2 linked regions of the Homo sapiens genome follow. The protein of the gene in region 1 purifies or fractionates together with the protein of each later gene. This does not show direct contact. Each region holds a gene or a part of one and is shown on either strand. Other genes may lie near its edges. The genes, in order: GALP and ITIH2.

Region 1 (3,818 bases):
TATTCCATTTATGTCATTTCAAAGTGGAGGGATTCTGTGAGGTCTGATGCAGAGAAAACACGGGGCCCATGGTTCAAACAGGATTCGGAATTTCACGTTGGTAACAAAAGAACATTAAAGCAAGCTGGGGCTCCAGGTGACGGCCCAGAAGCTTGAAGGAAACGCATCACTTGCCCAGGGCCCCCCAAATAGTAAGCGGCAGGGTGAGGGCTGGAGCTCACATCTACCAGTTTCCAAAGCCAGGAGAGAGCCCGCAGGGGAGGACGCAGGAGAAGACGTCTAACTCCCCGCTCACTCACCGATGGCCTTCCACAGGTCTAGGATCTCAAGGGCTGTCTCCCTCTTTCCGTCTTGGTCACCCATTTGGGGAAGGTGGAGGACTGGGTAGGGAGGGAGAGAGCAAGAGCAGGTGGTCGGTTAAGTAGAACTGAAGAAACACATCGTCCATCAATTCAACAGCATGGCTCACCGGACGCAGCGCCTCCACCAAGTCTGTCGGACGGGGTGCGTGTTGACCGTCCCTACCTACCGGTGGGGAAATCGTGCAGCTGCAAGCGGTCACTTGCTCGAAATTACCCTGCTGCTAATGGCAGGACTGGGGCTTGAACCCACCTAGGTCTGGGTCCACATCTCACGTTCTTTCTGCTCCTGCCACACTGTCTCTGCAGCCTGGGTTTCCCTGAATGAAGCTCAAACTGAAACCAACCTTGAGCACCACGGGAATCTCGGTATTTTATGGATGTAATGCTCACTATGCAGCACGTGGCCATGGGCACACCTATTGCCCAGGGAAGATGCAACTGGAGAAATGGGGAGAGACAAATGGAGGAAAAGAGAAAAAAGTTGCCAGGAGCAGTGGCTCACGCCTATAATCCCAGCAGTTTGGGAGGCTGAGGCGGGCGGATCACCTGAGGTTGGGAGTTCAAGACCAGTCTGACCAACATGGAGAAACCCCGTCTCCACTAAAAATACAAAATTAGCCGGTGGGGCATTGTGGTGCATGCGTGTAATCCCAGCTACTTGGGAGGATGAGGCAGGAGAATTGCTTGAATCCGGGAAGCAGAGGTTGCTGTGAGCCAAGATTGGCGCCACTGCACTCCAGCCTAGATAACAAGGCGAAACTCCATCTCAAAAAAAAAAAAAAAAAAAAAAAAAAGGAGAGAGAGAGACAAAGAATAGCAGCTAATCATTATACAGCACCCACTACACACCAGCTATTGTTCTATTAATAACTCAATCCTCACAACATTCTCGGATGTAAGGGCCATCATTACACCCACTGTCACAGATGAGGAAACTGAGGCATAGGGAGATCAAGGTTGCAGCCAGGTGTGGTGGCTCATGCCTGTAATCCCAGCATTTTGGGAGGCCAAAAGTAAGTGGATCACCTGAGGTCAGGAGTTCGAGACCAGACTGGCCAACATGGTGAAACCCCATCTCTACTAAAAATGCAAAAATTAGCCGGGCGTGCTGTTGGGCACCTATAATCCCAGCTACTCAGGAGGCTGAGGGAGGAGAATCGCTTAAACTACTCGGGCGGCGGAGGTTGCAGTGAGCTGAGATCGCACCATTCACCATTGCACTCCAGCCTGGGCAACAGAGCGAGACTCTGTCAAAAAAAAAAAAAAAAAAAAAAGAAAGAAAGAAAGAAAGAAAGAAAGAGTGAGAGAGCGAGAGAGAGAGAGATCAAGGTTGCAAACCAAGCAAGGGGCAGAGCTGGGATTTGGGCCCAAGGCTCTGGCTCCAGAGTCCACACACCCATCGCTCTGCTTAGACTAACCCTCCAGACAGATCTGCAAATAAATCCATGGGCCTCAGTGAATGTGGGTGAGGGTCTTTACAAGCCACAAACTCACTGCCTGCAGCAACCAGGCAGACTCGGGCCAGGGATGGAGAGCTGAGCGCAGCCTCACTCACCGGGACCCAGAAGGTAGCCAGCACTATTGAGGGTCCAGCCTCCTCGTCCCTGGATAGAGATGCAGAAATCAAGACTCAAGCAGACAGAAAGCGGGGCAGGCGTCCCACAGGTCCGGGGTGATGTGGGTCGTCATACGACTTTCCCACTGGCCTGTGGAGCAGGTTCATTTCAATCCCCATTGCACCGATGAGGAAATTGAGGACTTCCTGAGACAAAGCCAACTGGCCTGGAAAGAAAGCTTAAAGCGTTCTGTTGTGAGAGGAGAAAGGTGGTTATTGGGGGCTGGGGGGAAGGAGAAATGGGGAATTGTTCTTCAACAGGTATAATTTCAGTTATGCAGGATGAAGAAGTCCTAGAGCTCTATGGCACAACATCGTGCCCACAGCCAGCAATACGGTGTTGCACACTTTAAAGATATGTTAAGCCTGGGGGTGGTGCTCATGCTGTAATCCCAGCATTTGGGGAGGCCGAAGCAGAAGGATGGCTTGAGAACAGGAGTTCAAGGCCAGCCTGGCCAACATGGCGAAATCTCGCCTCTACAAAAAATACAAAAATTAGGCCGGGCGTGGTGGCTCTCGCCTGTAATCTCAGCACTTTGGGAGGCTGAGGTGGGCGGATCACCTGAGGTCAGGAGTTCAAGACCAGCCTGGCCAACCTCGTCTCTACTAAAAATAAAAAAAATTAGCTGGGCATAATCCCAGCTACTTGGGAGGCTGAGGCAGGAGAACCGCTTGAACCTGGGAGGTGGAGATTGCAGTGAGCGGGGATTGCACCACTGCGCTCCAGCCTGGGCAACAGAGTGAGACTCCGTCTCAATAAAACAAAACAAAACAAAAAATACAAAAATTAGCCAGGCATGGTGGCGCACACCTGTAGGTGGGAGGATCACTTTAGCCCAGGAGTTTGAGGCTACAGTGAGCTATGATCTCATCCCTGCACTCCAGCCTGGGTGACAGAGCGAGACTCTGTCTCAAAGAAAAAAAAAAAAAAAAAGAGAGGCTCTTCCTCCAACAACCCTAGTAGGTAAACTTGCTATTAGCTTCATTAGAAAGAGGCTCTTGGCCAAGGCTGGCGGATCACGAGGTCAGGAGATCGAGACCATCCTGGCTAACACGTGAAACCCCATCTCTACTAAAAATACAAAATATATATATATATAATAGCCGGGCGTGGTGGCGGGTGCCTGTAGTCCCAGCTACTCGGGAGGCTGAGGCACGAGAATGGCGTGAACCTGGGAGGCAGAGCTTGCAGTGAGCTGACATTGCGCCACTGCACTCTAGCCTGGGCCACAGAGCGAAATTCCGTCTCAAAAAAAAAAAAAGAAAGAAAGAGGCTCTTGAGGCCCAGAAAGATTCTGCAAATTGCAACAAATTGCAACACACTAAGAAGAACAGCTGGGACTCAAACCCAGGTGGATCCCAGACTCTTTATTTATTTATTTATTTATTTTGAGATGGAGTCTCGCGTCTCACTCTGCCACCCAGGCTGAAGCGCAGTGGTGCCATCTTGGCTCACCGCAACCTCCGCCTCCTGGATTCAAGCGATTCTCCTGCCTCAGCCTCCTGAGCAGCTGGGCTTACAGGCACCTGCCACAAGGCCCAGCTAATTTTTGTATTTTTAATAGAGACAGGGGGTTTCGCCATGTTGGCCAAGCTGGTCTCAAACTCCTGACCTCAGGTGATCCGCCCTCCTCGGCCTCCCAAAGTGCTGGGATTGCAGGCGTGAGCCACCGTGCCCGGCCGGTAGATTCCAGACTCTTAAGGAGGATGTGCACTGAATATTTAAGCCAGAGTGTTCCACTGTGTAAGGTGGGAAGTAGCAAAATAGAACCAACTGCAAAGGATTGTGGGGTAGAATTAGCTAATTCACATCACGGGTTTCACACAACGCCAAGCGCTGA
Region 2 (3,818 bases), on another chromosome or scaffold:
CACTGCCATTGAACGTACTTGTCACCCAGCCTGGGTGACAAAGCAAGACTCTGTCTCAAAAAATAATAGTAATAATTAAATTTTTACAAAAGTCAGCTGGGTTAATAGTCCCCAAATCAGAATCTTATCTCTTACTTGTTCCCAAATTTAAATACGATGCCTGGTACTGACAAAGAGCAGGGAAAAACATGTTCTTTCCCTACATCATTTTCTCATCTATTTAATCAAAACAAACAAGTAGTTTGTGTCTTTTCAATATATGTATTTTAATTAAAAAAATTATCTGTTGAACAGATGGATCTCACTATGTTGCCCAAGCTGGCCTTAAACCTCTGGGCTCGAGTGATCCTCCCACCTTGGCCTCCAAAGAGCTGGGATTACAGGCATGAGCCACCACACTCAGCCTGTATCTTAATACTTAAGAAAATTTACACTGTGAAAAATTGATACCAAGATGCCAATGCACGTTAAAGAGAAAACGGTTGGCCATGATGATAAGAAGACCAATTGCTGGTGGGGCAGGAGAGCTACAAGGAGCTTTGATGACGCTCAGAAGGCCTTTTTGTTCAGGGGGTAGGACAGCTGTTCCCAACACCCATCTGCCTCATACCTCACTGTTACTGCAGAAATATGAGGGTGGGGGGAAACATGTGAGAAAGGAACTGGGCACTTCCCTGATCCTTGCAACCAAATATGGCTGAGATCATGACCATTTTGAGTTAAGTTCAGTTATGCATCATACCTGCATCAGATATGGGTAGTTAAATGATTTCCAGTGAAGAATAAAAAAAGAACAGAAGAAAATGTTACCTTAAGCTGGGAAGACGTGTCCTGGTTTCCATAAATCCTTTGTGCAATTCCATGGTTTTCATTGGACAGTCTCTTCAAAAAATCATAGTCCACATCAAATCCCATGCCCAAACTGAACAAGGAGATATTGTCTTGGATGTTCTCCTTAACGTTTTTCTGAATTTTTGACAGTTTTAGTTCGCCTAAAGTTGGTGATGTCCGAAAGGAAAGGAATGAAGAAGCAATATCATAAATTTTCTGGAAAATCCAGGGAGGGCAGTTTAGTAAAGTGTGTCCAGATTAAAACTGCATTTCCCTTTTGACCCAGTAACTCAATTTCTAGTTTTTCTTAGAGATGCACTCGTACATGTTGAAATGAAGTGTGGGTTGTGTTGCATAGCAACATTATTTGGGAATTAGCAACATATTGGAAACAACATAAATATGCACCAATGAGGGCGCTTGGTTAGATGATGATACATTTAAACCGTGAGATACTATGCAGCTATTAAAAAGGACATGGAAACTCCTTATGTATGTATACCAGACAATCTCAAGGGCATGTTTAGAGGAGAAAAAAAAAACAAGGTAAATATCAGGGTACCTAGGATGCATTTGCATGCATGCATGTATAAATGTATGTATGTGTATGTATGCATATACACATACATGTGTGCAAACATGTATATATAGTATACAGGCATGCATAAACTATTTGTGGAAAGATACACAAGAAACTGGTAACCAGTGACTGATTCCAGGGACAGGAACTGAATGGTTGAGAAACAGGAGTGAGAAACCATGATTAAACCAAATTATGGTTTAATTTTGTTTTTTTTTTTGAGACAGAGTCTCACTTTGTTGCCCAGGCTGGAGTGCAGTGGCACGATCTCAGCTCACTGCAACCTCCGCCTCCTGGGTTCAAGGGATTCTCCTGTCTCAGCCTCCCGAATAGCTGGGATTACAGGCACACGCCGCCCTGTCAGGCTAATTTTGTATTTTTAGTAGAGATGGGGTTTCACCATGTTGGCCAGGCTGGTCTTGAATTCCTGACCTCAGGTGATCCACCCACCTCAGCCTCCCAAAGTGCTGGGATTACAGGTGTGAGCCACCATGCCTGGCAAGTTTAATATTTTAAACTATATTTCCTTTTCCACCTTATGATTTCATTCAAAACTTGAATTTTGAAAATAATCTGATCTGAGGGAGAAAACATTGGCTCTACAACAAATACATAACACTGGCTCATTCTAGTCTCGTTATTAATAAGATGGTTGCTCTCTGGCTTTCTAAAGCTCTGACTGCCATTGTTTTTGCCTCGTGCATTTTCATTCTGCTTGGCTGTGTCAGGACGTGTTAGACTCGGTCCTAGTCTGTACGACAGCACACTCAGGCAACACAATCTGGCATTCGCTATTACTTACAGTGGCCAGAATAAAGACACAAGTAAAACAAAGATAGCTTGGCACAGTGGCTCACACCTGTAATCTCAACATTTTGGGAGTCCGAGGTGGGAGGACTGCTTGAGCCCAGGATTTTGAGATCAGCCTGAGCAACATAGTGAGACTTCGTCTCTCCAAAAAAAAAAAGAAAGAAAAAAAAGAAATTAGCTGAGTGTGGTGGTGCACACCTGTAGTCCCAGCTACTCAGGAGGCTGAGGTAGGAGGATCACTTGAGCATGGGAGGTTGAGGCTGCAGTGAGCTGTGTGTGCTCCACTGCACTCCCTCCTGGGTGACAGAGCAAGACCCTGTCTTCAAAAATAAATAAAATAAACTAATGTAACAAAAATAAAAATAAATAATAGAAGTAGGGAGATGTTGCTGCCCATTTTGTAGAAAGAAAAATGTTTAACTTCAAGGTTGTGTCAGAGAGCAGTCATTTCTCCAGGTGCAACCGGGAGAAGTGTGGAGAATAATAGGGAATATGCTACTGTGGCCTCCAAAGGTACTGCTGGGAGATCTGGGATCAATACTCATCATTCACCACCCCCATACACCATCTTCACATACCTCAAGTTGAGGAAATAGATGCATTTCCCTAGAATGCATCAGCAATCCTCACAACATACTATTAAAATTCAGACTCAGATTTCTGCATATTGTGGAGGTGGAACTGAGGCATTCAAGAGCGCCCTTGCTGAAAGTGTCTGAGCAGTAGCTTAAGGGGTGAGGGCTGCAGGATCAGAAGACCTCCTTTAGGAAGCATGGGTTTAAAATGTTCTAGAAACTCAGGCAAATGCCATTAGAGTTCCCCTTTTAGGCAAACCACCATTCCAAGAAACAACAGTGAAAGTGTTTGTCGTGAGAAGGTTGAAGTGACACTTGCCCACTGTTGGATCTCCATCAGAAACCAAAATGATCAGCGAGACGGAGTTGGGGTCTAACAGTCCCAAGTTATTGGCTTCATTCAAAATGAAGATTGCCCGTAGGAGTGCTTCGTTGATGTTTGTGCCTGTTGAAGTAGCATAATGAAACGTTGGGTATGCGTTCTCGCCACACGCAGAAAATCCCATTCTGGATTCAGACTCATATGTCGGCTGATCACTTATCCATCACTTATTCCATGCCAAAATCATTTCATTGCTTTCTGAGTGACACAAACTGTGCTCAAGCTGGTGGTCCCCCAGTGCAGTGAAATATTCACTTTGAAATAAACTATCCCCTTAGAGATGAACTAGCCCTTTCAAAGCACAGACTGTTAGCTTGTTAAACACCAGATTAAAGTATCCAAATCAGCCTTGCCAAGATACTCTGAAGATAGTAACATTTTATGCTTTATGCAGGCAATAAAGAAGGCCAGTGTCACTGAACCTTTTTCTGAGAGACATTAAAACGGTTCAAAGCTTATGTGGGCTGTATTACAAATTCTACTTTCACTACAAACTTAGCATTCATCCATTACCAATAAATGTATTATTTAAGATAGGCCCTCGAATGCTGGGGAAAGACCACTGTGATGGGAATAATGCTTCTTAAGTGAATCATGATTTGAACCCAGAGGAAGTGTCTCCTTGGGATTTAGCCCAACA

The links.
Region 2: the proteins of GALP (region 1) and ITIH2 purify together in Homo sapiens (affinity purification with mass spectrometry; one large-scale study listed by BioGRID and IntAct). This does not show direct contact.

What each region holds. Positions count from the first base shown.
Region 1 is NC_000019.10:56,178,734-56,182,551, reverse strand, and holds part of GALP (galanin-like peptide isoform 1 precursor), read right to left. Parts: intron 1,967-3,818; coding exon 1,918-1,966; intron 381-1,917; coding exon 300-380; intron 1-299.
Region 2 is NC_000010.11:7,727,126-7,730,943, reverse strand, and holds part of ITIH2 (inter-alpha-trypsin inhibitor heavy chain H2 precursor), read right to left. Parts: intron 3,242-3,818; coding exon 3,116-3,241; intron 993-3,115; coding exon 811-992; intron 1-810. UniProt on the Homo sapiens protein: May act as a carrier of hyaluronan in serum or as a binding protein between hyaluronan and other matrix protein, including those on cell surfaces in tissues to regulate the localization, synthesis and degradation of hyaluronan which are essential to cells undergoing biological processes.